Homo sapiens: one gene and its partners. The protein of the gene in region 1 purifies or fractionates together with the protein of each later gene. This does not show direct contact. Each region holds a gene or a part of one and is shown in the gene's direction. Other genes may lie near its edges. The genes, in order: ST7, SMPD3, PM20D1, LRRC32, CTBS, GM2A and ACP3.

Region 1 (3,500 bases):
GATGCCTTGACCTCTGCTGTTACACTTAGTTCCTTTACCAGCCTTTTGAGGCCTGTGGTATTCTCATTTTACAGATGAAGAGACAGGGACACAGATTAACGACCCACGCAAAGTCATACGCTAGTGAGCCTAGGCAGGTCCTGCTCATCCTTTAGATGCCACTTTGGCCGCTTCTCCATTATGTACACACAGCACCATGACTCCCTTGGAGGTATTCATCACCGTGGGAACCTTTGCTCTTACTTTCATGATTGGATCCTGCTTCTGGCACTTGGTGGTGAGCTCCATGAGGGCAGGGGCAGTGTGTGCTGGGCTCACCTTTGTGTGCTTGTCACATAAGAAGCCACTCACCTTTTGTCAAGCAACTGATTATAAGAAGTAGAGCTGGGATTCAAACTCGGTTCCCTCTGTTACAAATAATCTGTATAAAATTATCTAAGATACTCTAAGATTGATTACATTCTATCCTTGCCTATCTAGTAGGTAGAGTAAGAAGAGGTCATTAGAAGTCATTGGGAAAATCAGGAATTAACTTGTTCATGTATCCATCCTTTTGTCATTTCTTTGGTTCTGTTTATTTTTCCCCCCAGTATCAATTGAGAATCTCTGACGGGAACAGCACTGATAGACTTGGAACCTAGAAAATGTGTCTGGTCAGGGATAGAAGAAGACAGCATTGTGCCACAGACTTGATTGTGAAGGCATGATCTGTTCTTTCACTAATTCTCAGTTTCATTTTGACCCTTCAGCAAATTCACAACCAAAATCAAGGTAGGGGAAGGGATGGCACACAGAGGAAAGTGCAGAAATATCATTTATATACCATGTATTCACTCTGAGTGGCCTAACTTTTTTGTTTTGTTTTTAACCCAATACATGTGTATTTTTAATTCCTCTGAAATTTGTGTTTTCTTAAGGATTTTTAGGTCTGTATTCATTCATAAAATAGATCTGTTCAAATGACCTTTTTCTATTCTTATTAGCACCACCAAATCAGTGTGTTTTTAATACTTAGATTCGCAAAATTTCTGGACATTTGGCAAAAGGCACAAGGCTGTCATGGAGCAGTTGCATGTCTTAGCAGTGAAAGGGACCAGGAGGTGGGAGGTGACGCTGGCAAGGCTTGTGCAGTGCCTCTACCGGCCTCTCTCTGGACCTCCCCTGCTTATCTCACACTTGACTGGGCCCTGCACTGCAGGGTGGGTAAAGGATAGAATTGCAAGCAGAAATTGTATTTGCTTTTGTTTAGTGAAGCCAAAAGCCTTAATATTATTTTTTGAGCTCAATGCAAATGGCAACTGACATGAGAGAGATTTTAAGAGCACCATAAGCATCTTTATAATCATGGGGGTGGAGGGCAATCCGGGAAGAGGGTGTGGGTGGGTGGGTGGCTGTGTGTACACATGCACTCTTTTTAAAGTTGTATTGTGTCTCTAACCTCTCCAAAAAAGACCAGAACCAATTAGAAAAAGGAAAAGGCCAACTTGACGCACAAAATTCTATATGCATGCCAAATATTGGAGTGAAAAACATGTAGCATTTGACTGAAAAGACACCAACCAACCATTAGATTTCTATGGTTGAACACTCTCAAGATCTTGCACTCCTGTATTTCATTTAAAAAATTACTCCCTGAAGTGCAAACTGACTTCAATTTTGAATAAAATTTAGCATTCAAATTTATAGCCACTTTGAAAACTGAGGGTTTATTTATATCATATGAACTTGAACAGATACTTAATTACAGCAACCCAGCAGCCCTTTGCACATGGAGAATCTGGATTTGGGAAAAAAAAAAACAAAAAAAAAAACTTCCCACGTAGGTTTTTCCACATTTTTCAGATGCTTTTGTAGCAGCCATCATTTATGGGAAATGGCATTAAAATCCTGCCGTAATGTAGTTTAAGTTTAAATTCAGTGCTTCCCAGAAGAGATTTTAGTGTATCCTATAAAGGCACTAAAAGGCTTATTTTTGTTTTTGTTTGTTTTTGTGGGGGGTGTTTTGTTCTCTTGAAAGTCTGGTTCTAATGAGAGAGATGTTGGTTCCTTGGAATGATCTTTGTGTGTTAACAACCTGTGCAAAGAACTCCTCTCTTGCTTGTTCTAGCGGGCAAAAGTCATCTTTGTTTGCGTGCAAGAAAAGGTCTGATTGAACTAGGGTGAGCCTTTCATTTTAAGCAGAGTTAAAGTCTGGGGTGTTTTTAATGTTTTAATCTCTGTTTAAGAGGTTTCTGTTATGAGAGGAAAATTGATAACATTTTTACCTCAGCAAACTGCCAGCAAACTGGCTCTGCTCTAATCCCACATTTATAGTGATTTATATTCTCCGTGGCAATGTGCTGTAACCTCAGAGTGATACCACTGCGGTGTAGATTGACTGCATTCCAAATGCTGGAATCACATACATAATGTTTTTACTTTTAAATAATATTCAGACACCAGAATAAATACCATATGTGCACTGATGCTGGTTACAATGGAACCTTGTCATTTCTTGTGAGGGAGAACATTCTTTGTTTCTGATTCCTGTTTGAAATAAGTATGCAAAAGATAAATATGTACATTGACAGCATTTTGAGAAGGCTCTGGTAGTTACACAGCTGAGGATGTAGCTATGATTCCTTGAAATGTATCATTTAAAACTAAAAATATTGCTGCATGTTGCCCCCATCCCTCACTACCATACATGAAGGCAAGGATTGTTATCTGACATTCCCAGAGTAGGGTAGAGCTTTTATATTTTATATCTACAGCAGGCTGTAGTAAGAGGACATCTGTTGAAGAAAAATTACCTCCGTGAGTACTGTTCATAGGAACAGTGAGACTAACATGCTGATGACATTGTAACAGGGAGAGTAACACACTTGATCATGGGAAAGGATGGATTGATTGGAAAGCCGTAATTCAGTGTGAGCCCTAATGTCATCTGATGCTACAAAAGCAGAATTTAGGTGGCCTAACATCATCAAAATACAGATAATTAATCTCTCCAGATCAATTTTCCCACATGATAAAAGTTAAGATTTAAACTTTTAATAAAGTTTAGAAACACCTCCCGAGTTATACATTTTTAGATTTTTGTTTTTATTCATCTTGATTGGAATTCAAATCCACTTAAACAGTATTTTTTAAATCAATTTGGTAGAATACCTTTCATATTTGTACATCTATACAAACTCCAACAAGTCGATCCACATTTGCTTCTTGGGGAAGCATTTTAATCCACGTTTGCATGATTACTATTTGTTTAGCTATATTGAATTAGTGCCCATAACATTTTAATAATATTTAGTAGATGATGAAACCCTGGGCATTGATACTGATGGCTTCCCAACCCCTCTGCACCTCTGTCCCCACCCAGTTTTGTGAGGTTTGCTCAGAATATATAGTGTGAGATGAATGTGTGAGTAATCCATCACAATTTATCTCTGACATTTCATCTGGCACATAGCTTGGTGGGGTAAGCCTTGCCTCCTTTGTAGAAGTGTTCCCTGTTATAA
Region 2 (3,500 bases), on another chromosome or scaffold:
TGGGTGCACCCCACATCTCCAGCTCCCTTGGCCCAGGCCCCCTCCTCTGCATCAGCCCTGCTGTGGTTTCAGCCACCCTCCTCGTCTGAGGCCAGGTGTGACTCCTCTTATGCCCTCCACTGCCTCAGGAAGTCTGAACGTCACCTTGTACCACCTCCCGCCCCCCTGCCCCCGCCACCCTTAGCTCCAGCTCTGCCCCAGCCACAACCCCGATGAGGGGCTCCTGTACCCCTGGCCCCTGCTTGTCTTGGTCCCACACTGGGTGTGGCCACACCACCTCATGGAGCTCCCTCAGCGGCCAGCCACACAATCCTCTCTTCCCTTCATGGGCTCCTCTGCCCTCGTGCCCAGGGTCTTGTCTGTCCATCAGACAGAGCACCAGGACAGCAGAGCTGTGGTGTGCCCAGCACACGCGGATCCCAGCGCGGAGAAGTGAAGTACGTGGGGCTGCCTTGGGGACAGGCCCAGCCGGAGAGGGGCCGGGACGCTGGAGGGACTCGCTGCAGAAATCAGCGGTCCCCTCCTTCCCGGAAGGCCCTCATGGTTTCCCGTATGGGACTTCAGAGCCTTCAGGGAAATGTGGCTCTGTGAAGGAAGGGACTGGAATCCCTTTTTCCTCACCTACAATAGAGCCTTATTCTGGACACCTCTTCCGTTGACAGTCTTTGCCCGCCAGGACTCAAAGGCACAGCCTTTCGTGTGATTGCTTGTTTTTGCAAGAGAAACACAAGGCTCTGCGGCTCCCAAGGCCACGAGCCAGGAATCAATGAGGCCCAGCAAATAATCAAGTGGATCTTGGTGAGATCACACGGCAGATGAGGAGGGAGAAGCGGGGCGGGAGGGAGCAGGACCTCGTCACTCCTCCGGCCAGTGGGTTCTTGTCGTGCAGGGCCCAGTCTGAGGCCTCCCTGCGAGTGTCCAACCCTGTCCGGGACACAGCGCGGGGCAGGTGACACCAAGTGTTGGATGAGTGAGAGGCTGACGCCTTAAGACCAACAAACAGGCGGCCGGGGAGAAACCGCAAAGACACCAGCCCCTCAGAAAGCAGCGCAGAGCAGCGCACAGCAGCGCACGACAAACAGATCCGACTGGAAGCTGCCTCTTAGACCATGTGAGCCTGTGACCCCGGCCCACAACTCAACTTCTGGCCTCAGTGTGTTCAACGGTAAAAGCAGCATCACTTTATCATGTGCCTGAGCCGTTGTAAGGACCCAGAAAAGTAATGTCCATGCGTCGCCACCCCACCCCAGCACGAGCCCACTGGGCCTGAGATGATCCTCATGGAGGAGGAGCAGTTGTTGCCTGAAGACGGCGCCCCCGTGTGGTCTTTTATTTATTTTGAGACAGTCTCATTCTGTCGCCCAGGCCAGAGTGGTGCAATGGGGCGATCTTGGCTCACTGCAACCTCCGCCCCCCAGGTCCAAGGGATTCTCCTGCCTCAGCCTCCTGAATAGCTGGGGTTACAGGCATGCACACCCAGCTAATTTTTTTTTTTTTTTTTGAGACAGAGTCTCACTCTGTTGCCTAGGCTGGAGTGCAGTGGCATGATCTTGGCTCACTGTGACCTCCGCCTCCAAGGTTCAAGCGATTCTCCTGCCTCACCCTCCTGAATAGCTGGGATTACAGGCACATACCACCACGCCCGGCTAATTTTTGTATTTTTAGTAGAGACAGCGTTTCACCATGTTGGTCAGGCTGGTCTCAAACTCCTGACCTTGTGATCTGCCTGCCTCAACCTCCCAAAATGCTGGGATTACAGGTGTGAGCCACTGTGCCCAGCACACCCGGCTAATTTTTGTATTCTTAGTCGAGATGGGGTTTCATCATGTTGGCCAGGCTGGTCTCGAACTCCTGAACTCAGGTGATCCACTTGCCTCGGCCTCCCAAAGTACTGGGATTACAGGCGTGAGCCACCGTGCTCAGCCTCATGTGGCCTTTTGAGCATGGCGGCTTCATCAGTGTTTTGTTTTTGCAGCAGAACCATCAATGCTGCGTGATCTCACAGAGCCATTCGGGGGGCGGGGATGCTGTTAGGCTAAGGTTTGGGTCTGTCTGTGGGCAAGAAGTGAATGGTGAACCTGTGGGGCTGAACAGCCAGACGTTCGTACCCCCAGGTGCTGGGGAAGGAAGGCTGTGCATTAGGGCTGGGAAGGGGATGAAGAGCTGTAGAAAGCCAGGGGCACCTGCTGCTGAGGACGTCCAGATGGAGGAGATAATACCAGCCTGACCGACTGCAGCAGTGAAGGAAGGACGGAGCCTGCCGAGGCTGTTGGAGCAGATGGGCTGTGACGTTTGGGCTGCTGTGAGCTCCACAGATGTGGGGCACCCACCCTGCGGCCCTCTGCCCTCAGCCAACAACTGGGAGAGGCAGTGTGTCCTGCCCAGCCACCTCCCTGGAGTGCTTTTTGGGTCTGGGGTCTCCTCATCTTGGGAAACTCAGTCTGGAATGGATTTGCATGGCTTGGGGAGGGTACAGAGGCACAGGAGGGAAGGAATCCCAGGGGCAGGGGATGAGGAGCTGGTAAGCGGCCTCTCTGTGCAGGGCATCTCTGTGGCCATCCCTCACCTCTCCTGGGCTGAGCACTGACAAGGGCTCCATCTTGCCCCCACCTGGGGTAGGGCAGTTATGAATTGCCTGCAGGGTACAGTGGAGATGCTAATTTGTATTAAGCCAGCCTTTGGGATCCTGCCAGGGTCACCTGCTCCGTCTTGGGTAAAGGAGGTAAGCAGGAGGTCGGGGCAGAGGGGAGACCTGAAGAGGATGCTGCCACAGTGGGCTCAGGATGGAGCCAGGGGTGTGCAGGGGCCAGCCTAGGACACAGGTCAGGGAGCTCTCATCCAAGACGGGTGACAACGGGACCACGGCCTATAAAGCAGATGACTCACCATGCAGCCAGAAGGCGACGAGGCCAGGAGGGGCAGGGTCTGGGCCTCTTGCTGTGTGGGGTGGGCTCTGAGGCCACGCCATGGCACAGGGGCAACCCCCTGAGATTTCAGGGGGAGAAAGCACCAGGGTGTGACCAGGTCTAGGGTGTAACTGAGGGAGGGAGGAAAGAGCCACAGACAGGACTGGACAAGGAACTGAGAGCCGTGGCCACGCTGGTCACTGGGAGATGGCAGGGCCTGGGCCTCCGGGGAGCCTTGCTGCGGTTCGGCACTTCCCCCATGCTTTGCACAGATGGCCGCCAGCACTCCCCACGCCACAGGCCAATAGTTTCTTTCAGCACCCGCCTCTGGCCCAGATCCGTAAGTCCCTAGAAGCAGGACACATCCTGTCCCTACTCGGACCCCAGAATCCAGCCAGGAGCCAGGCTTGTGAGGGTCTGACCTCATGGGTGGGTGGGCACTGCCAGTGTCCTGTGCTCTCAGGGCCACAGTGACTGGCAGGTGGCAGCACTGACCCCCTCCTCCCCCAGGTGCAGGTGGGAAGCACACCTCAGGACCAAAGAATCGTCGGGTACATCGCCTGCACACACCTGCATGCCCCGCAAGGTAGGGTT
Region 3 (3,500 bases), on another chromosome or scaffold:
TTGAGATGGAAGCCCTGGCACTTTCCCACTTTAAATTTGAGGAGGCTAAGCTTCCTGCCCTAAAGTTGGGCTGGGAAACTATGCTATAAAAAATTGACACTAGAGGAAGAACAGAAGGGGAAGCCCAGGACAGACTAAAGATCCAGGTGATTAATACAACAGGTGTAAATAAAGAGTTATCTCAGCATGGCTCACAGATACCAGGCTGGGGTCATCTCAAATGGAGTGAGAATTCCTTCCAAGGTGGGGGTTGGGGGAGCCACAGGAGAGACAGAGCCACCAGTATCCTGCAAGGGCTGGAGTCAGAAGAGGATCTGTCAGTATATCCATATGGAAAGCAAGGACCTACAGGCAGAAGCTAGGTCAGGCAGCTAGAGTAGTCCAGAGTCCAGACATTTAGAATCACAAATTGGCAATGACTGGTAGAGCTGTCGAAATTCTCCACCTGTCCTGGCAGGAGGACAAAAATAAATAAGAGTTGCTGGCTATGAATGAGGACAGCAGAATCTGTAACAGCAGAGCTTACTCCTGGCTGGGTTTTCTTAGCAAAGTGGGAAGGAGTGCTATATTCATTCAAATTGTCAGGAGACTGACAATTCTGCTGTAGTATGGGATGGGCTATGAGAGTGGACACACAGGATTCTAGAGAACAGCAGAGGGAGGAAAGAAGGACCCTAATGCAGACTTGGTAGACAGGGAAAGCTCCTGGGGATGTTTTGAGATCTTCAGAATGTTGAGTTGGTGGAGGTGGGAGGGAGGTGAATGAGAGACCTCTTGGCCAGGAGCGTTGAAACTTCCTCCTATCTCCCTTCTTCTCCTCTTCAAGCCACTGATCTTTGGCTGGGGTTCGCTAAGTCTTGAGGACTCTGTTTCTCTTCCAGATTGGAGCAGACACCAATGCCTATCATATTTGGAAGCGGGACAGTGGTGACTGTATTGCAGCAACTGGCAAATGAGGTATGGGAAGAAGTATCACATACTCCTAATCAGCTAGGAACAAAAGACGGACAGAAAAGTAACCTTTAGAGTAAGAAAAGGACCCTAGTACTGTCCAGCACTCTGCCTATTCTCACCTATTCCCAGCCAGTGGCTGAGCCAAGACACAGGGATCTGGCTTGTTCTCTACGGCTGTTAGTGTGTTTCTGAGACCCTAAGACCTAATCTACCCTTTGGGAGCTGGTTCCCACTTATCCTTGAGGTTGCTAAGCAATTGTTCTAACCAACCAGATAAGCCCAGCCAGACAGTAATTGCCTCCCTATTCCTGATCCTCTAGCAGGGATTGAGCTAACTGAATTTAGCAGCACTCCTGACTGCTAAGGGCCCCTGAGGCAGCTCTAAAGTAGAGAGAGACTCAGGTCTCAGAGACCCAGGCTAAACTAGAGGTGACCCTGTGGTGCTGACCTTGTTCTTTCCCAGTTTCCCTTCCCTGTCAATATAATCCTGAGCAACCCATGGCTATTTGAACCACTTATAAGCAGGTAAAGTATTATCTTTCCTTTTTTCACATCCCTCACCTCAAACCTACCCACCCCCCAGGCCCCTCTCCTTGGCTTAACTGGGCCTGACTAATCATCCCTCAGCCACCAGATACTGCATCTCTAAGTGTGTATATTTAAGACATCTCTAAGACGTCTCTCTCAGTCTTAAAGATCCCCAAGGTTCAGGAAAGTGGGTAATGTTTCCGCCCTTTCCTTCACCCCATTGGTTCTTTCTAACATCTGACCTTGGTCCTTTTGTTTTAGGTTTATGGAGAGAAATCCCTTAACCAATGCAATAATCAGGACCACCACGGCACTCACCATATTCAAAGCAGGGGTCAAGGTAACATCCCTGGTTCCTCCCCATATAGCTTTTCCCTACCGCCCTCCACTCCTCCCTTCCTTGAATCTATCTACTGGCTCTTCCTTCCTTCTGTGTGTGTCAGCTGGATCCAAGCCTAGCCACGCAAAGACATAGGCCTTTCTGAAATCTTGAAGGGAGTTAGACCATTCTTGTAACTGCCAGTACCACCAGCACAACTTCAGGGGGCACCATTCACCTAGAGTACAATGTGACCTTGAAGCACTCTAGTAATCGGGTATATAAGTGAATGATGCCTCTGAATTAATTCCTGGCATAACTCACTGGACCGTCCAGTGTGTCAGCTGTAGTGTTCATCAGAATAATAGCACTGTGTCCTGACATTTGAATGGTGTTTTCATCTCCCCAGGATACTTTGTTACTCCATCTGAGCCTTCTAAGAGTCCTATGAGTATTGCCCCAATACCCAGTTGAGAAAACAGAGGCACAAAGAGGTTGCAACAGCTAATTTGCAACAGCCCAGCTCTGTCCCTGACCACTTAGTGCTTTTTTGCACCATACGAGTTCAAAGAAAGATATGCACTTGGGGAGTCTCCCGGCCTCCAAGGAACAATCCCTCCATAGCCTAACTCTTTTCTCCAGTTAGTCCTGGATTCCTCCTGGTCAGGCAAAAAAGTCAGATTTTACAACTGGACCTGGGAAACCACCAATCCCTGCTAGAAGGTCGGGAATGGGGAGGCAATTACTGCCTGACTGGCTTATCTGATTGGTTAGAACAATTGCTCAGCAGCCTCAAGGATAAGAGGGAACCAGCTCCCAAAGGTTATGTTAGGTCTTAGGGTCTCAGAAACATACTAACAGCCCTAGAGAACAAGCCAGATCCCTCTGTCTTGGCTCAGTCACTGGCTGGGAATAGGTGAGAACAGGCAGAGCACTGGCCAGCACTAGGGTCCTTTTCTTACTCTGAAGGTTACTTTTCTGTCACTCTTTTGTTCCTGCCTGACCAGGAATATGTGAGGAGTATGTGTTCTTCTCATCCCCCTCAAGGATCAAACCTGATGTGAGCCCCGTGCTATGCCATGATGGGGGTCAACAGAGGCTCTGGCTGCCCCATCGTGAGTAAGCACTAATGTTAACAGCTGCAGAAATGTCCTGGGTGTGCTGGGAAAGAAAGTGCACACAGAAGGCTTCTAATAGCACAGCATGGGGCCAAAACAGAGATATCTGGGTGATCAGAGAAAGCAGCCTTGCTCTGAACATCTCTGTGACCCCCTGCAGCACCAAGAAGCAGGAAGGTCTGGCTTAAAGCAGAGACACCCCTTCAGCTCTGAATATAACATGTCACTTAGTTCAGAGAAGACAAGAGGCAGACTAGAAAAGCTAAGCCTTGGGTCCTTAAGTCAAATCAGCCAACTCTGCCTGAGCTGAGGAAATTAGCATTTCCTGGGCAGGCAGATGTAGAAGATTTGAGGTTGACTCAAGCCAGGGTTTTGTGCTTCTCTCTCTAGTTCAATGTCATCCCCCCAGTGGCCCAGGCCACAGTCAACTTCCGGATTCACCCTGGACAGACAGTCCAAGAGGTATGTACCATATGTTCCAGACAACAACTCATGCAGCATCAGGGAGATGTGGCCCTCAGGGCCCGGGTTTAACTACAGTCCTAGGGCTGGTCCAGTGTCCCATTTATTCAACCAACATT
Region 4 (3,500 bases), on another chromosome or scaffold:
AGGCTTCTAGAGCAGGGGTCTTGGGCCCCTGAATGGAAAGCCAGTCTTGGGCTGTGGGCTTGGCAAACTTTGTGTCCTGGATCAAGTCTCAGGGGCTGGTGCCCCAGGGAGCCTTTGCCTATCCAGAGGCAGTATGCCTCTGCACTTGCCCGGGGGTAACACGCGGGGCACAGCACGGTGCCCCCCACACTGTAACAGTCAGTAAGTGGGTCCATGATGCTCTTTGCTGTGCTGACCAGCTGAGGGCCCAGTGGTCAGAACTTGGCTGGCACCAATAGGAAAAGGAATTTGCAAATGGGAGTTTTGAGCCCCTGACTGTCTGATCTTGGGCAGCCCACTCCCCTTAGCCTCAGTTTCGTTAGGGGTACAATAGGAACAGGGTGAACAATGCCTGGGAAGATTTAATGGGGTAGGGGGTCTCTGCACTCAGCACGCAGCCTGACACAGCTGGGGCTCCATCACAGGTCATTTTGTTGTTTCTGCTTTAAGTAAGGAATGCCCCAGGGGGTAAGGGCTGTGAGGAGGAGGCTATGTTTAGTGGCCCCTGCAGACAGAGAGGTTGTGAGGGAGGAAGGGCAAGGATGGGCAAGGCAGCTGGGCAGGTTTCAGGTTCACACAGGTGCCCAACTGACGGGGCATCCCTGGGCCTCCTGAGGCCCCTGTGAAGCTGCCTCCCTTGGAGGCTACATGGAGTCACTGTGCTGCATGGAGTAAGAAGAGCCACACGGAGGCCTGAGGCTGGGCAGGTCTCTTCCTCCCCCTACTCACCTTGGGGCTCTCAGGAGGAAGCGCAGAGCTGGACCAGGGGAGGAACACACCGGCTTGTGTTCCCTCCCTACCAGCTCAGCCACTGGCTCACTGTGAATTCACGCAAGTCACTGCCATCTTCAGGCCTCAGTGTTCACATCTGGGAAGTGGGTCAGCTGAACTCTTCTTGCTCTACCCGTCTTTGACTATATTTTGAAAATATCAATTATGCATTTTCTTTCCTCCTAGAGAAGTGATTGATTCAGTGCCTCAGACCTTTACTAAACTGATGATGTCTGGGACTCATTCATTAGGAAAAATTGACTTGCTAGTCAGGTCCAAGGCATGCACATCCACCAAACCAGTCCCTGTTTGCTCTGAGCTCGCTGTCTAGCAGGTCCTCACACACACAGCCACAATTCAGCGGGGCAAAGCTCTGAGAGGAAGCACAGTCAGGGAGGGCTCCCTGGTGGAGGAGGCCCTGAAGCTCAGTGTGAAGAGTTCATGTGTGGATCTGGTTGGGGATGGCATAACCAGCTCAGGGAGCAGGCCCCAGCAGTGGGTGTGGGAGCGCATGATGGGCAGTGGTCAGCTGTGGTCACTGCATGTGGGCTGGGGTGGGAGGTGGGGGACAGGTTGGCAGGGGCTACAAACAGCCTCGAAGGCCCTGCTGGGGATCCTGGACTTCACCGTGGAGAAGTTTAAGCCAAGCTGCCTCATTGTCAGAGTAGAGCTTTTGAGCAGTTGTCAGGCATTTAGCAGTGAGTGGGTCAGAACGGGTTGGCGGAGACAGAAGCTGGGGGCGGTGAGCCTGAGCCCGGTGATTGTGGAAGTCAGACCTTTTTCTGGGAAAGGCTGGGGTTCCTGGAGGCCTGGAAGAGAAGAGGGAGACCTGCATTTGCACAGGAAGAATTTTGGTCCCAGAAGGCACATCTGTGGAAGAACAAGAGTTCGGCCTTTTGTTGTTAAAAAACCTGGGTTCAAATCCCAGCTCTGCTCCTCACCAGCTGGGCAATCCTGGCACCTCCCTTCCCCTCCCTGAGCCTAGATTTCTGTAAATAGGGGTGATCGTATCAGATGGGCAGGCTGTGGTAAAGACCAATGGGACCATGGGCCTGAAAGTATTAACCAAGATGTCAAATGCTGAGTGGCTGCTGGGGAAGAACGTAAGAAAACAGAGTGGTTATGTGACTTCCTGGAGGTCGCACAGCACAAACACAGTCTCATCACCAAAGACTGTGGATTTGGCTCTGGCCATCTTTTCCCTGGCCCTTCCCACCTCCAGGGGCCCGGTCCCCTGACCCAGCCTGGGAAGAAAGCCACCTCCTAGGAGGTAACAGCAACAGAGAGGAAGCCACATCTCGGAAGCATCCACAAGGAAGGCAGGCCCCAGGACCCAGGCTCTGCCCATGACACGAGAGCCTGAATGAGGTCTGAGGCAGGGAGGCCAAGATAAAAACTGATGACAGAGCACAAATTACAGTTTTCCCTTTTGGAAACATTTCTCCCAAAGTGGAGAAATTCCCATCTACCACCAGAAATTTAACTATCTGTGCCCATAGAAGGGACCTAGGACATAGAATCAGGAGCCCTGGGTCCCAGCTCTGCCCTGCTGCTCACTGGCTTGGGGTCACTCTGTGGGATATATGGCTGTTTCCTGTAAGAGGGGTAATAATAAGTACAGGGTTTCTCTTTGTTAGTTTATTTGTCCTTCTATCTGTCTATCATCTCTCCATCTGTCCACCCATGGAACCTTCATCGAGTTCCTTCCTTAATGCCCATTACTGCGCTGGGTGCCCGAGATGGGGCAGGGAGCCGGATGGGTCATCCAGGCATGGGGTGATCAGGCTGCGGTGGGGGAAAGTTGAGCATTCTGGGAGTCCATGGGAGAAGGGTTCCCCAGCCAGGCAGGGTTCCTGGATAAACATGTCTGGTTTCATCCCCTACCGTGCCCACTTATGCCAGCTGTCTCCCCACCCTACCCCTCCCCAGGTGGACAAGAAGGTCTCGTGCCAGGTTCTGGGCCTGCTCCAGGTCCCCTCGGTGCTCCCGCCAGACACTGAGACCCTTGATCTATCTGGGAACCAGCTGCGGAGTATCCTGGCCTCACCCCTGGGCTTCTACACAGCACTTCGTCACCTGGACCTGAGCACCAATGAGATCAGCTTCCTCCAGCCAGGAGCCTTCCAGGCCCTGACCCACCTGGAGCACCTCAGCCTGGCTCACAACCGGCTGGCGATGGCCACTGCGCTGAGTGCTGGTGGCCTGGGCCCCCTGCCACGCGTGACCTCCCTGGACCTGTCTGGGAACAGCCTGTACAGCGGCCTGCTGGAGCGGCTGCTGGGGGAGGCACCCAGCCTGCATACCCTCTCACTGGCGGAGAACAGTCTGACTCGCCTCACCCGCCACACCTTCCGGGACATGCCTGCGCTGGAGCAGCTTGACCTGCATAGCAACGTGCTGATGGACATCGAGGATGGCGCCTTCGAGGGTCTGCCCCGCCTGACCCATCTCAACCTCTCCAGGAATTCCCTCACCTGCATCTCCGACTTCAGCCTCCAGCAGCTGCGGGTGCTAGACCTGAGCTGCAACAGCATCGAGGCCTTTCAGACGGCCTCCCAGCCCCAGGCTGAGTTCCAGCTCACCTGGCTTGACCTGCGGGAGAACAAACTGCTCCATTTCCCCGACCTGGCCGCGCTCCCGAGACTCATCTACCTGAACTTGTCCAACAACCTCATCCGGCTCCCCACAGG
Region 5 (3,500 bases), on another chromosome or scaffold:
AAACAGTAAATGTATTTATGGCTCCATCTGCAGTAGCCAGAAACTTGAGTATTATCAGACTTCTCTCCTTTGATTACTCATTCGATTAGTCACAAAGTCCTGTCAATTTTGCCTCCTTAGGATCTTCCAGATCTGTTCACTTAACGCCACTGCTCCACAATTTTAGTTGAGGTCACCATCATCTCTTACTTGGATTCCTCCAACAGTTTCTGTATTCTGCCTCCAGTTTTGGTGTCTCTTTAATCCTTTTCCCACTGCAGCTGAAAATATTTTTCTAAAATGCATACCTTCCCCTTTTAAAAATGCTTTTATTCTCTCCCTTTACCTCAGGATAAACAAGGTAGTACTAACTTCTCAACAGAGCTTATGAGGCCTTTCATGATTTAATCCATGCCTACTACTCTCTGGTCCTTCACTAATGCTCTCTCCCCAAATTCTAGACGTCGGCCATACTAAATATTTAGTTACGCAACCACCATGTTGTCTCTGCCTCCAGGCCTTGGCACTTGCCACTCTTCCTTCCTGGCCCATCCTTCCCCTCTTTCCCAGCCTGGCTAATTACCCCTGCCACCAATTATCTTGGGACCCCTATGTCTTATGCACTTGTACTCTCACTGCCACCATAGTGTTTGGTGTATGGTGATGTTTGATGAACGGTATTTTGGACGGTCAGCATAATATTCTTGGTTTAAATGATGGTGCTCATCTTTGTTCTGGCAGGTCTTTGTGTTTGATGTTGGACAGAAAACTTGGAAATCTTATGATTGGTCACAGATTACAACTGTGGCAACATTTGGAAAATATGACTCAGAACTTATGTGCTACGCTCATTCAAAAGGAGCCAGAGTAGTACTTAAAGGTATGTTGTTTCCAGATCTATGTGTGCAGCAATTGGGAAATTTATCTGTATCACTTGCTATAGTCCCGACTTTCCAAAAAAGTCCTTTTATGTTTATCTGTTTTTGTTAGGATCCTATAATTAATCTTAGATACTGTGTAATTCATTTCACAAACACAGATCTTTTTAAAAGAATTAAACCACTGTATGGTTTTGAGCAAAATGTTAACTGCCAAATTAGCCTTATGACCTTTACTTAATCATAGTCCACAATTTCTGTTTCTAACTTCAGAACAATTTTACTAATGATTTATAATGGTTATTTTGGAGATTCATGAGTAATGGCTTTCTGTTACTTTGGTATATTCTTTCTCCATTGGAAAACTTCAGTTAAGGGCTTAGTCTTCCAAAATAATGAAATGTTTTTGCATACATGTTCAAAAGATATATACTTCTTCCACAGGAGATGTATCCTTAAAGGATATCATTGATCCTGCTTTCAGAGCATCCTGGATAGCTCAAAAACTTAATTTGGCCAAAACACAATATATGGATGGAATTAATATAGATATAGAGCAAGAAGTTAATTGTTTATCACCTGAATATGATGCATTAACTGCTTTAGTCAAAGAAACTACAGACTCTTTCCATCGTGAAATTGAGGGATCACAGGTAAAAACTCATTTATTTTTTGGAAACCTCATATTTTCCATATCAGAATATACTCATGAGGGTATAACTAATATAATCTTTGTTTTATAGTAATGCAATGGGAAAGAGTTTCAGCACTTATTTCCTAAAAAATTTTTCTGGAGCCTTTGGTGTTCTTATTTAAGGAATTTTAAAGCCCTAAATCTATTCTCTATTCACAGCAAAATACAACACTGGGATTACCCCCACTACTTGCCTTGTAGCACAGTTAGAAGTGTTAGGCAATGGGAGAACAAAAATCAAGGGGGGCGCCTAACCAGCTTTTACCAATGCAGGACAGAAACAACCCAGGAGTAGAGGTAGTTCTGGGGAAGTGTATCACTTGCTCTACAGTCTCTGAATTACTTGCACCCAAGGCCCAGTAAAGCTTAAAGGACTAACTACACAGAACTGTGACAGCTATAACAATAGGCAGTGTGCTTCCCCACTGCCATAATGAACATGATTAGAGCAGAAGGTAACAACACAAGCTATCTTGCCAGACAACAGATGGGTAACAGAGGATAATGTGAACCCAGATCAGTGATCCTCAAACTTGGCCACATATCAAGATAACCATAGGTCTTAAGGAAAAGTAAGCATGTGTTTACTTTTCCACACACATGCACACTGTGAACTCACTCCCAGAAATGATTTTTCAAAAGGTTTTGGGTAATCCCAGAGCCCCCAATTTTAAAAAAGTTTCATTGGTGATTATAGTTAAGAAGTAATAGGCTAGACAATGAGTTTTTTTGAAGACGGGGTGCAGCTCCTTGATATCTAACAGAATGCTTAAAAATGTATTCCAGTATAGAGCATTATGAGTATTATAAACCAGTGATTCCTAAACCTGTCTCAGAATTACCTGAGAGTGCTTGTTTAAAATATCCTGAGTGTATTAGTTTGTTCTCACATTGCTATAAAGAAATACCTGAGACTGGGTAATTTATAAAGACAATAGGTTTAATTGGCTCACGGTTCTGCAGGCTATACAGGAAGCATAATGCTGACATCTGCTTGGCTTTTGGGAGGCCTCAGGAAAACTTACAGTCATGGTGGAAGGCAAAGCGGGATCAGCACTTCAAACAGCCAGAGAAGGAGAAAGAGAGAGGGTGGGGAGGTGCCACACACTTTTAAACAATCAGATCTTGTGAGAACTCTATCACGAGAACAGCACTGGAGGGGGAAATCTGCCCCTGTAATCCAGTTACCTCCTACCAGGCCCTACCTCCAACATTGGGGATTACGATTCAACATGAGATTTGGGCGGGGACACAGATCCAAACCATATCACTGAGATTGACTCAGTAGGTCTGGGATAGAGCTTAGAGAACTGTATTTTTGCCAAGTGTCCTAGGTGATTCTGGTAGAGTTGGTCATCATGAATTTGAAAATTACAGGTAAAATAATTTGAGAATTACTGGTAAAATAATAAGCAATATGACGACTGACATTTCTGTGGTTTTATGCAAATAGGGAAGATCTGTCAGTATGGAATTCAACTTGTCAGGAGAGTACAATGTAGATTAAGAACAGCAAATACCTGGCATACAGGCCACAATACCCCTTCTCCTCCTCACACATTTTGGCCTCAGAAACTTTTCCTTCATTCTCTAGATAGTGATTACTAATAGGTTAGAATTGATGTGTGGAATATATGGGAAACAACCTATTTGACAATCCTGATTAAGCTGTAGTGAAAGAGCAGAGAGGAAGAGATTGAGCAAAATCCTTGCAGTAGGAATATCTCTTTCTGTCTCTTGAGAGGTGAGGAGAACAATTTGGGCTACATGTCAAGTTCATGTTAGGTGAATTAGTGGGAGGGACAGTTGCAAAGGTAGGCCAGATTGTGGAAGATCCAGAATGTCAGGCTGAGGACTGTGCATTTTATTCTGTGTGTAATGGGTTATGTGTGTAAAATAGTGTTTGGGGAAACTATTCTGTAGGAGTATGTAAAACTAGATGAGAAAGG
Region 6 (3,500 bases), on another chromosome or scaffold:
ACACTTATAACCTTTTTCAAACCTTTGTTTTATTTTTTTTTACCAGGTGGATTTAGTTTTGGAGAAGGAGGTGGCTGGCCTCTGGATCAAGATCCCATGCACAGACTACATTGGCAGCTGTACCTTTGAACACTTCTGTGATGTGCTTGACATGTTAATTCCTACTGGGGAGCCCTGCCCAGAGCCCCTGCGTACCTATGGGCTTCCTTGCCACTGTCCCTTCAAAGAAGTAAGTACTTAGGGAGGAGAGAGCGTTACCCCTGTGGCTAAAGAGATGGGGTTTGGAGAGAAGGGTCTTTGCATTCTCCTTCTGCAGATCTGCATGTCTCTGGATTTGTAAGCCAGTGTGACCTATCAGGAATCACTTATCTTCCGGGAGCCTCAGTTATCCATCTACGAAATGGGAGACTTGAACTTAGATGTGATCTTCAGGGCCCTTTATCCATAATAATCCATGCTCTACAGTGCTATGGCCGTCTCTCATCTTGTGCGGCTGTTTTGAGAATGGGAAGAGGGGTGGTAGTTCATGGCTGCAATCCTAGCAGTGGCTCTAGGAGAAAGACCCCATCAGTAGGCTCCCACTGACTGGCGGTCCACTGGCTTTCCCGCAGGGAACCTACTCACTGCCCAAGAGCGAATTCGTTGTGCCTGACCTGGAGCTGCCCAGTTGGCTCACCACCGGGAACTACCGCATAGAGAGCGTCCTGAGCAGCAGTGGGAAGCGTCTGGGCTGCATCAAGATCGCTGCCTCTCTAAAGGGCATATAACATGGCATCTGCCACAGCAGAATGGAGCGGTGTGAGGAAGGTCCCTTTTCCTCTGTTTTGTGTTTGCCAAGGCCAAACTCCCACTCTCTGCCCCCCTTTAATCCCCTTTCTACAGTGAGTCCACTACCCTCACTGAAAATCATTTTGTACCACTTACATTTTAGGCTGGGGCAAGCAGCCCTGACCTAAGGGAGAATGAGTTGGACAGTTCTTGATAGCCCAGGGCATCTGCTGGGCTGACCACGTTACTCATCCCCGTTAACATTCTCTCTAAAGAGCCTCGTTCATTTCCAAAGCAGTTAAGGAATGGGAACCAGAGTGTTTTAGGACCTGAAGAATCTTTATGACTCTCTCTCTTTCACTCTTTTTTTTTTTTGTCACTAAGTTAAAAGCGAAGTGAGAGTATTAACGTTTTTGTTCTCCTCCGGCCCCCTGTTACAATGAAGGGGCAAAAGTATTTGCTCTTAGTCTATTCCTCCCTTAACTTCTGTGACTAATTTTTATTTCCTTTCTAGATTTGCCCAATTAATACTAGGGTGCAGTGTATCCTGGAGAGGTAGGGTGTGTGGGGGAGGAATCCCTTGGGGGAGATATTAGGAGTGCTCTGTTGTTTACAAACTCAGGTACCCGCAGGGCCTAGCAAGAGACTTAAATGACTGATAAGAACCGTGAGAAACATGTTGCTTCCAGGCTTGATTTCGATTTTTCGCTTTTTTTTTTTTTGAGACAGAATCTCACTTTGTCACCAGGCTGGAGTGCAGTGGTGCAATCTCACCTCACTGCAACCTCCGCCTCCTGGGTTCAAGCAATTCTCCTGCCTCAGCCTCCCAAGTAGCTTGGACTACAGGCCCTGCCACCACGCCCGGCTAATTTGTGTATTTTTAGTAGAGATGGGGTTTCACCATGTTGGCCAGGATGGTCTCGATCTCTTGACCTCGTGATCTGTCCACCTTGGCCTTGCAAAGCGCTGGATTACAGGCATGAGCCACTACACCCAGCCGATTTTTCCTTTTTGATTAAAGATGCTATTACAATGTAAATATTTCTTACACAGAAAGTCACAGCACATGTGCCCATTGATACAAGGCTGCTGAGGCCTGGTCTCCAGTTGGAAATATAATTAAGGGTGGCAAGGACTGGAGTCAGTTGGAGAGTGCATAGCCAGTCTGTGAAGACAACTGCCAGATACTGGCAATACTCCAGCCTGGTGACAGAGTGAGACTCTGTCTCAAAAAAAAAGTTTCAATGTTTACTCCTAGAGAAGCCAAAAATCCAGATTTGTATATGAAATCTTACCATTTTAAAAGATTGGCAGCTAATTATTTTTTTAAAAAGCTGTGCAGTGTGATGTGTCCCAAACGGACTGGCTCATGGGTGGCCACGTCACAACCTCTGATCTCAGACCGTGCATGCCTTGTCCTCTTAAGACAACTCCTGTGGCACCGTTTCTCCCTCCACAGGGCCAAAGCCATAGTGTCCGGTCCCAAGGACAAGGCTCTTCCAGTGCTAGGAGAGGTATGAGCAGCCTCTCACCTGTGAGCTGTGGGGATCACAAGGCTGCCTGCCTCAGTCTTGGAGTCCTGTTGGGTGAATGAGGCAGATGGGAAAGAGCCTCACCAGCAGCTGCTTTTGGAGCAGGGGTCCAAGGAAGAGAGGGTGGCCTCGACATCAAACTGCCTGGATTTTTCTACCACCCTGTTACATCATAACAACTTCTGAAACACACACCAGCCCTGAGTTCTGGGCTCATTTGAAGCCTGGAATAGCAATAAATCTTTTTAACTTGCGGACAGTTTCCCCTTGCCTTGGCTGCATATTTCACTGATCACATCTCAGGATTTCAAAAGCATTTTTGGGGTGGGGCTCTTTTGGTTGGAAGGGTTTGTTGGAACGGTACAGGTGAGCCGAGGTGATTCCAGGGACGGACCCTTCTGCAGGAGCTTGAGCTTGCTTGTTGTCTCTGCTTCATCGCCATCCAGCTCCCTTGTTTGCTATTTTGCTTTCCATCACATCATGACTGCGGAGAGCAAAAATCACCTAGTGACCATTGAACAGGTCCCAGAGACAAAATCTTTTTATCTGAGGAATTTAAAAGGGAGCAAAGACCACCTGGTGACTATCAGGCCATGCAGAGGCAAAACGCCTTATTTGGGGAAAATTAAAAGTAATTAGACTTTCCTATTATCTAAAGCAGGCATCTGGTTCCAGATTTCTTTTCCCCGAAAAAAACCTTAGAAGTAACTAAAATTTCTGTACATCTCCGGAATGCCATGCTGAAACTCACTGCAACCCCACGGTCCCGCTTTAAGGTCCATAAATATCCCTAAGGAAAAATCCACCGTGGTACATTCAGTCCTCTCACCGAGGTGCCCCATGGCAGTCTTCTGCAGCATTCTTCTAATACCTTTCCTTTTTCAAACCTATACTGTTGTTGGTGAATTCTTTTTACCAACCCACGAGTTGACCACTTCCCAATGCCGGGGATCTGACACCTCACCTGGCAATGACCTCCACAGCCGTTTCCCTCTGTTGGATCTTCCAGCCTTATTCTCAACAGTTCATTTTTAGTTCACATTCTTGACCGAATCTCAGTAGCTCAGTTAATCTTTTTATGTCTGCTCTGCTCTTGGGTCATATGTTCCGTGAGGTTTCTTAGGGGTGGGGGATGAGGAGTTAAAGGTGGCATCTTCAATCGCAGGTCAAAGCAGACTTTAATAAATGGTGCTGAGCCAA
Region 7 (3,500 bases), on another chromosome or scaffold:
GGGAGGCTGAGGCATGAGAATCACTTGAACCTGGGAGGCAGAGGCTACAGCGAGCCAAGATGGTGCCATTGCACTCCAGCCTAGATGACAGAGCAAGACTCAGTCTCGAAAAAAAAAAAAAAGTTATACTAGTTGGGCACGGTGGCTCACACCTGTAATCCCAGCACTTTGGAAGGCCGAGGCAAGTGGACCACCTGAGGTCAGGAGTTCAAGACCAGCCTGGCCAACATGGTGAAACTCCATCTCTACTAAAAATAAAAAAATTAGCTGGGCGTGGTGGCAAGCGCCTGTAGTCCCAGCTACTCAGGCGGCTGAGGCAGGAGAATTGCTTGAACCTGGGATTCGCCACTGCACTCCAGCCTGGGCAACAGAGCAAGACACTGTTTCAAAAAAAAAAAAGTTATACCACTATTACTGTAATCATTAAGGGAAGAATACTTCTCATCAGAGTTTGTCTGCAGTAAAGTACTCTTGTCAGCTTTGTGTTCCTTTCTGTCCTATCTTATGTACAAACCGATCTCCATTATGTGTCACCTGCCTTCTAATGGCTGATCATCTTGATTCTTACATTACCTGAAACACAGTGAAAGTGTTAGTGAACTTAGAATAGTGGTTCTTAACTAGAGATTTACCCAGGGAGATTTTTTAAATCCTGATGTCCTGGCCACATCCCAGACTAATTAAATAAAAATCACTAAGGTTGAAAGCCAGTCCTCAGAATCTTTTAAAACTCCTTACGTGATTACAATGGGAAGCCAAAGTTAAAACCAATGAGTTAGAAAAAAAAAAACTATTATAATGAGCAGAAGCAAAACACCCAAGTGACGTTTGTAACATCACTCTCTCACATCTACTTTCAGGTGTTTCGGCATGGAGACCGAAGTCCCATTGACACCTTTCCCACTGACCCCATAAAGGAATCCTCATGGCCACAAGGATTTGGCCAACTCACCCAGGTTGGTTGGACTTTTAGCTAAAGATTGTTGATGAAGCTGGGTGTGGTGGCTCACGCCTGTAATCCCAGCACTTTGGGAGGCCGAGGCAGGCGGATCAACTGAGGTCAGGAGTTCGAGACCAGCCTGGCCAACGTGGTGAAACCCTCTCTCTACTAAAAATACAAAAATTAGCCAGGATTGGTGGTGGGCACCTGTAATCCCAGCTACTCGGGAGTCTGAGGTAGGAGAATCGCTTGAACCTGGGAAGTGGAGGTTGCAGTGAGCCAAGATCGCACCATTGCACTCCAGCCTGGGCAACAAGAGTAAAACTCTATCTCAAAAAAAAAAAAAAAAAAAAAAAGATTCTTGATGAGTCTCAAGGGGAAATGTATATAGAATTGTCTGTTTTGATATTTTTTGCCCTTCTGGCTTTATTTAAATGTAAGAGATGTACATGAACAAAGACTATATGAGCTTAGAAATGCTGAAGAGAGCCAAGTGGTAATCATAAGCCAGGATTTGAATTTCTTAGGCTTCACATGAGAAAGTGAAAAATAGTCTTGTAATCAATAAGCTGAATCAACAGCATTGGGAAACATGATTCCCCAAAGTGCTGATATCAGAATATGATTTCTTGTCAGCTGGATATATTGGGATTTGACCTTCCTTATAAGTGGTCAGTTAAACACAGGGAGCCCTACTTTCTGAAGAGCATCTAAGGAGAAGGTGAACTGGGGAGCAAAGCCATCTTTAGTCACTGTTCCAAAGCCCTATTCCCTTTGCTTGTAAGATTGGATGACTCTTCTGTTTGGAGCCACAAGGCCAGGTGAATTGCTTCTGTCCTGATCTGTTTAAATATATTAATTAAGAAAATGTCACAGAATCTTTAGAGTAGAATGTCTCAAAAACTAATGGGTCTTAATCCTGCCAAAACATTGGGATTATCTGGAGAGGTTTAAAAAATATATTGATGTCTGCCTGGGAGGTTCTTATTTAATTGGTCTAGTATGTGTCCTGGGCATTGGGATTTTTAGAAGCTCCTTGGTGATCAGTTCACTCTAATGTGTAGCCGAGGCTGAGAATTTCTGCCCTGACTATATTTCATAGAGGAGAAAACTCAGGCAGGCTATTTGAGACCAGCATCTTCTGTCTCCCAGGTCAAAGCTCTTCTCACCATAGCCTACCCATCTTCTGTCCCTTTGAATGAAAGAGAGGCTACAAAAATTCAGATTTGCTTGTTAATACCTATGGCTCTGTATAGACTCCTGTTCTGTTGCTATGTTTTCCCATTAAGACCAAAAGATTCTTCTAGGCTGCAGGATCTGAGTTCTTCTTCTGAAGAACCTTGATTACCCATCAGATTCTATTAGGGCAGTATTTCTCAAGCTTCCATGTGCAAATGAATCACTTGGGAATCTTGTCAAAATGTAGATTCTAATTCAGCAGGTCTGATGTGGGACCTGCGATTCTGCATGTCTAACATACTCCCAAGGATGACAATGGCACTGGTACATGGACCACATTTGAAGTGACAAGGTTCTAGGGCTCAGATTCCTACCCTTGTCTAGGTACTTTTTTTTTTTTTTTTTTTTTTGAGATGGAGTCTCACTCTGTCCCCGCAGGCTGGAGTGCAGTGGCTCGATCTCAGCTCACTGCAGCCTCTGCCTCCCAGATTCAAGCAATTCTCGTGCCTCAGCCTCCCAAGTAGCTGGAACTACAGGAGAGCACCACCACGCCTGGCTAATTTTTTATATTTTTAGTAGAGATGGGGTTTCGCCATGTTGCCAAGGCTGGTCTCAAACTCCTGAGCTCAGGCAATCCACCCGCCTTGGCCTCCCAAAGTGCTAGAATTTCAGGCCTGAGCCACCACACCCAGCCTTGTCTAGGTACTTTAAATCTACATAATCATAAGATGATGGCTGTCTAGATCAGTGTCTAGGTACTTTTAATCTGCCTTGTCTAGGTATTTTTAATCTGCATAATCATAAGATGATGGCTGTCTAGATCAGTGGTTTTTAAAGTGTGGTCCCTGGACCAGCAGCATCACCATCACGTGGGAACTTCTCAGTAATGTAAATTCTTCACGCAATACCCAGTGAACCATAAACTTTGGAATTAAAGCCCAGAAGTCTGTGTTTTATTGAGTCCTCCAGGTGATTCTGTGCATGCTAAAGTGTGAAAATCACTGCTTCATACAGACGACTATTTAAAAAGTCAGCTGTAAGAACACAATTAGACCTAAAGTACCTGCTTCTCCGCTACTCAGGTCACGGTATATTATTCCTTTCCCACCTTGTCCCTATCGTAGATGGGAAGTGATTATAGTGGTGGTCAAGCAAATGACAAGTGTGACAAGCAAATGACAAGTGGGACCAAGCAGCAGCCACCGTAACAACCTCCTCTCTGGCTCCCAAAGCTCTAGTAAGGCTCTGGATTAAAGACAAACTTGAATGCTGCATTTCCAAAGCATGGTGCTCTACTACATGCATCTGAATCACTTGGGAGACTTGTTAAAATGCAGATGTCAGGGCCCCACTCAGGAACTAATGAGCTGGAATCTCTGAT

Evidence for each region.
Region 2: the proteins of ST7 (region 1) and SMPD3 purify together in Homo sapiens (affinity purification with mass spectrometry; one large-scale study listed by BioGRID and IntAct). This does not show direct contact.
Region 3: the proteins of ST7 (region 1) and PM20D1 purify together in Homo sapiens (affinity purification with mass spectrometry; one large-scale study listed by BioGRID and IntAct). This does not show direct contact.
Region 4: the proteins of ST7 (region 1) and LRRC32 purify together in Homo sapiens (co-immunoprecipitation; one large-scale study listed by IntAct). This does not show direct contact.
Region 5: the proteins of ST7 (region 1) and CTBS purify together in Homo sapiens (affinity purification with mass spectrometry; one large-scale study listed by BioGRID and IntAct). This does not show direct contact.
Region 6: the proteins of ST7 (region 1) and GM2A purify together in Homo sapiens (affinity purification with mass spectrometry; one large-scale study listed by BioGRID and IntAct). This does not show direct contact.
Region 7: the proteins of ST7 (region 1) and ACP3 purify together in Homo sapiens (affinity purification with mass spectrometry; one large-scale study listed by BioGRID and IntAct). This does not show direct contact.

The regions. Positions count from the first base shown.
Region 1 is NC_000007.14:117,215,501-117,219,000, forward strand, and holds part of ST7 (suppressor of tumorigenicity 7 protein), read left to right. Parts: intron 1-3,500. UniProt on the Homo sapiens protein: May act as a tumor suppressor.
Region 2 is NC_000016.10:68,365,009-68,368,508, reverse strand, and holds part of SMPD3 (sphingomyelin phosphodiesterase 3), read left to right. Parts: intron 1-662; coding exon of another isoform or gene 663-770; exon of another isoform or gene 771-1,165; intron 1,166-3,416; coding exon 3,417-3,492; intron 3,493-3,500. UniProt on the Homo sapiens protein: Catalyzes the hydrolysis of sphingomyelin to form ceramide and phosphocholine. Ceramide mediates numerous cellular functions, such as apoptosis and growth arrest, and is capable of regulating these 2 cellular events independently.
Region 3 is NC_000001.11:205,840,133-205,843,632, reverse strand, and holds part of PM20D1 (N-fatty-acyl-amino acid synthase/hydrolase PM20D1 precursor), read left to right. Parts: intron 1-881; coding exon 882-957; intron 958-1,417; coding exon 1,418-1,479; intron 1,480-1,743; coding exon 1,744-1,822; intron 1,823-3,309; coding exon 3,310-3,381; intron 3,382-3,500. UniProt on the Homo sapiens protein: Secreted enzyme that regulates the endogenous N-fatty acyl amino acid (NAAs) tissue and circulating levels by functioning as a bidirectional NAA synthase/hydrolase.
Region 4 is NC_000011.10:76,660,748-76,664,247, reverse strand, and holds part of LRRC32 (transforming growth factor beta activator LRRC32 isoform a precursor), read left to right. Parts: intron 1-381; exon of another isoform or gene 382-1,619; intron 1,620-2,739; coding exon 2,740-3,500.
Region 5 is NC_000001.11:84,567,941-84,571,440, reverse strand, and holds part of CTBS (di-N-acetylchitobiase precursor), read left to right. Parts: intron 1-720; coding exon 721-859; intron 860-1,301; coding exon 1,302-1,510; intron 1,511-3,500. UniProt on the Homo sapiens protein: Involved in the degradation of asparagine-linked glycoproteins. Hydrolyze of N-acetyl-beta-D-glucosamine (1-4)N-acetylglucosamine chitobiose core from the reducing end of the bond, it requires prior cleavage by glycosylasparaginase.
Region 6 is NC_000005.10:151,266,685-151,270,184, forward strand, and holds part of GM2A (ganglioside GM2 activator isoform 1 precursor), read left to right. Parts: intron 1-46; coding exon 47-229; intron 230-611; coding exon 612-767; 3' UTR 768-807; coding exon of another isoform or gene 808-956; 3' UTR 957-3,500.
Region 7 is NC_000003.12:132,327,407-132,330,906, forward strand, and holds part of ACP3 (prostatic acid phosphatase isoform PAP precursor), read left to right. Parts: intron 1-860; coding exon 861-956; intron 957-3,500. UniProt on the Homo sapiens protein: A non-specific tyrosine phosphatase that dephosphorylates a diverse number of substrates under acidic conditions (pH 4-6) including alkyl, aryl, and acyl orthophosphate monoesters and phosphorylated proteins.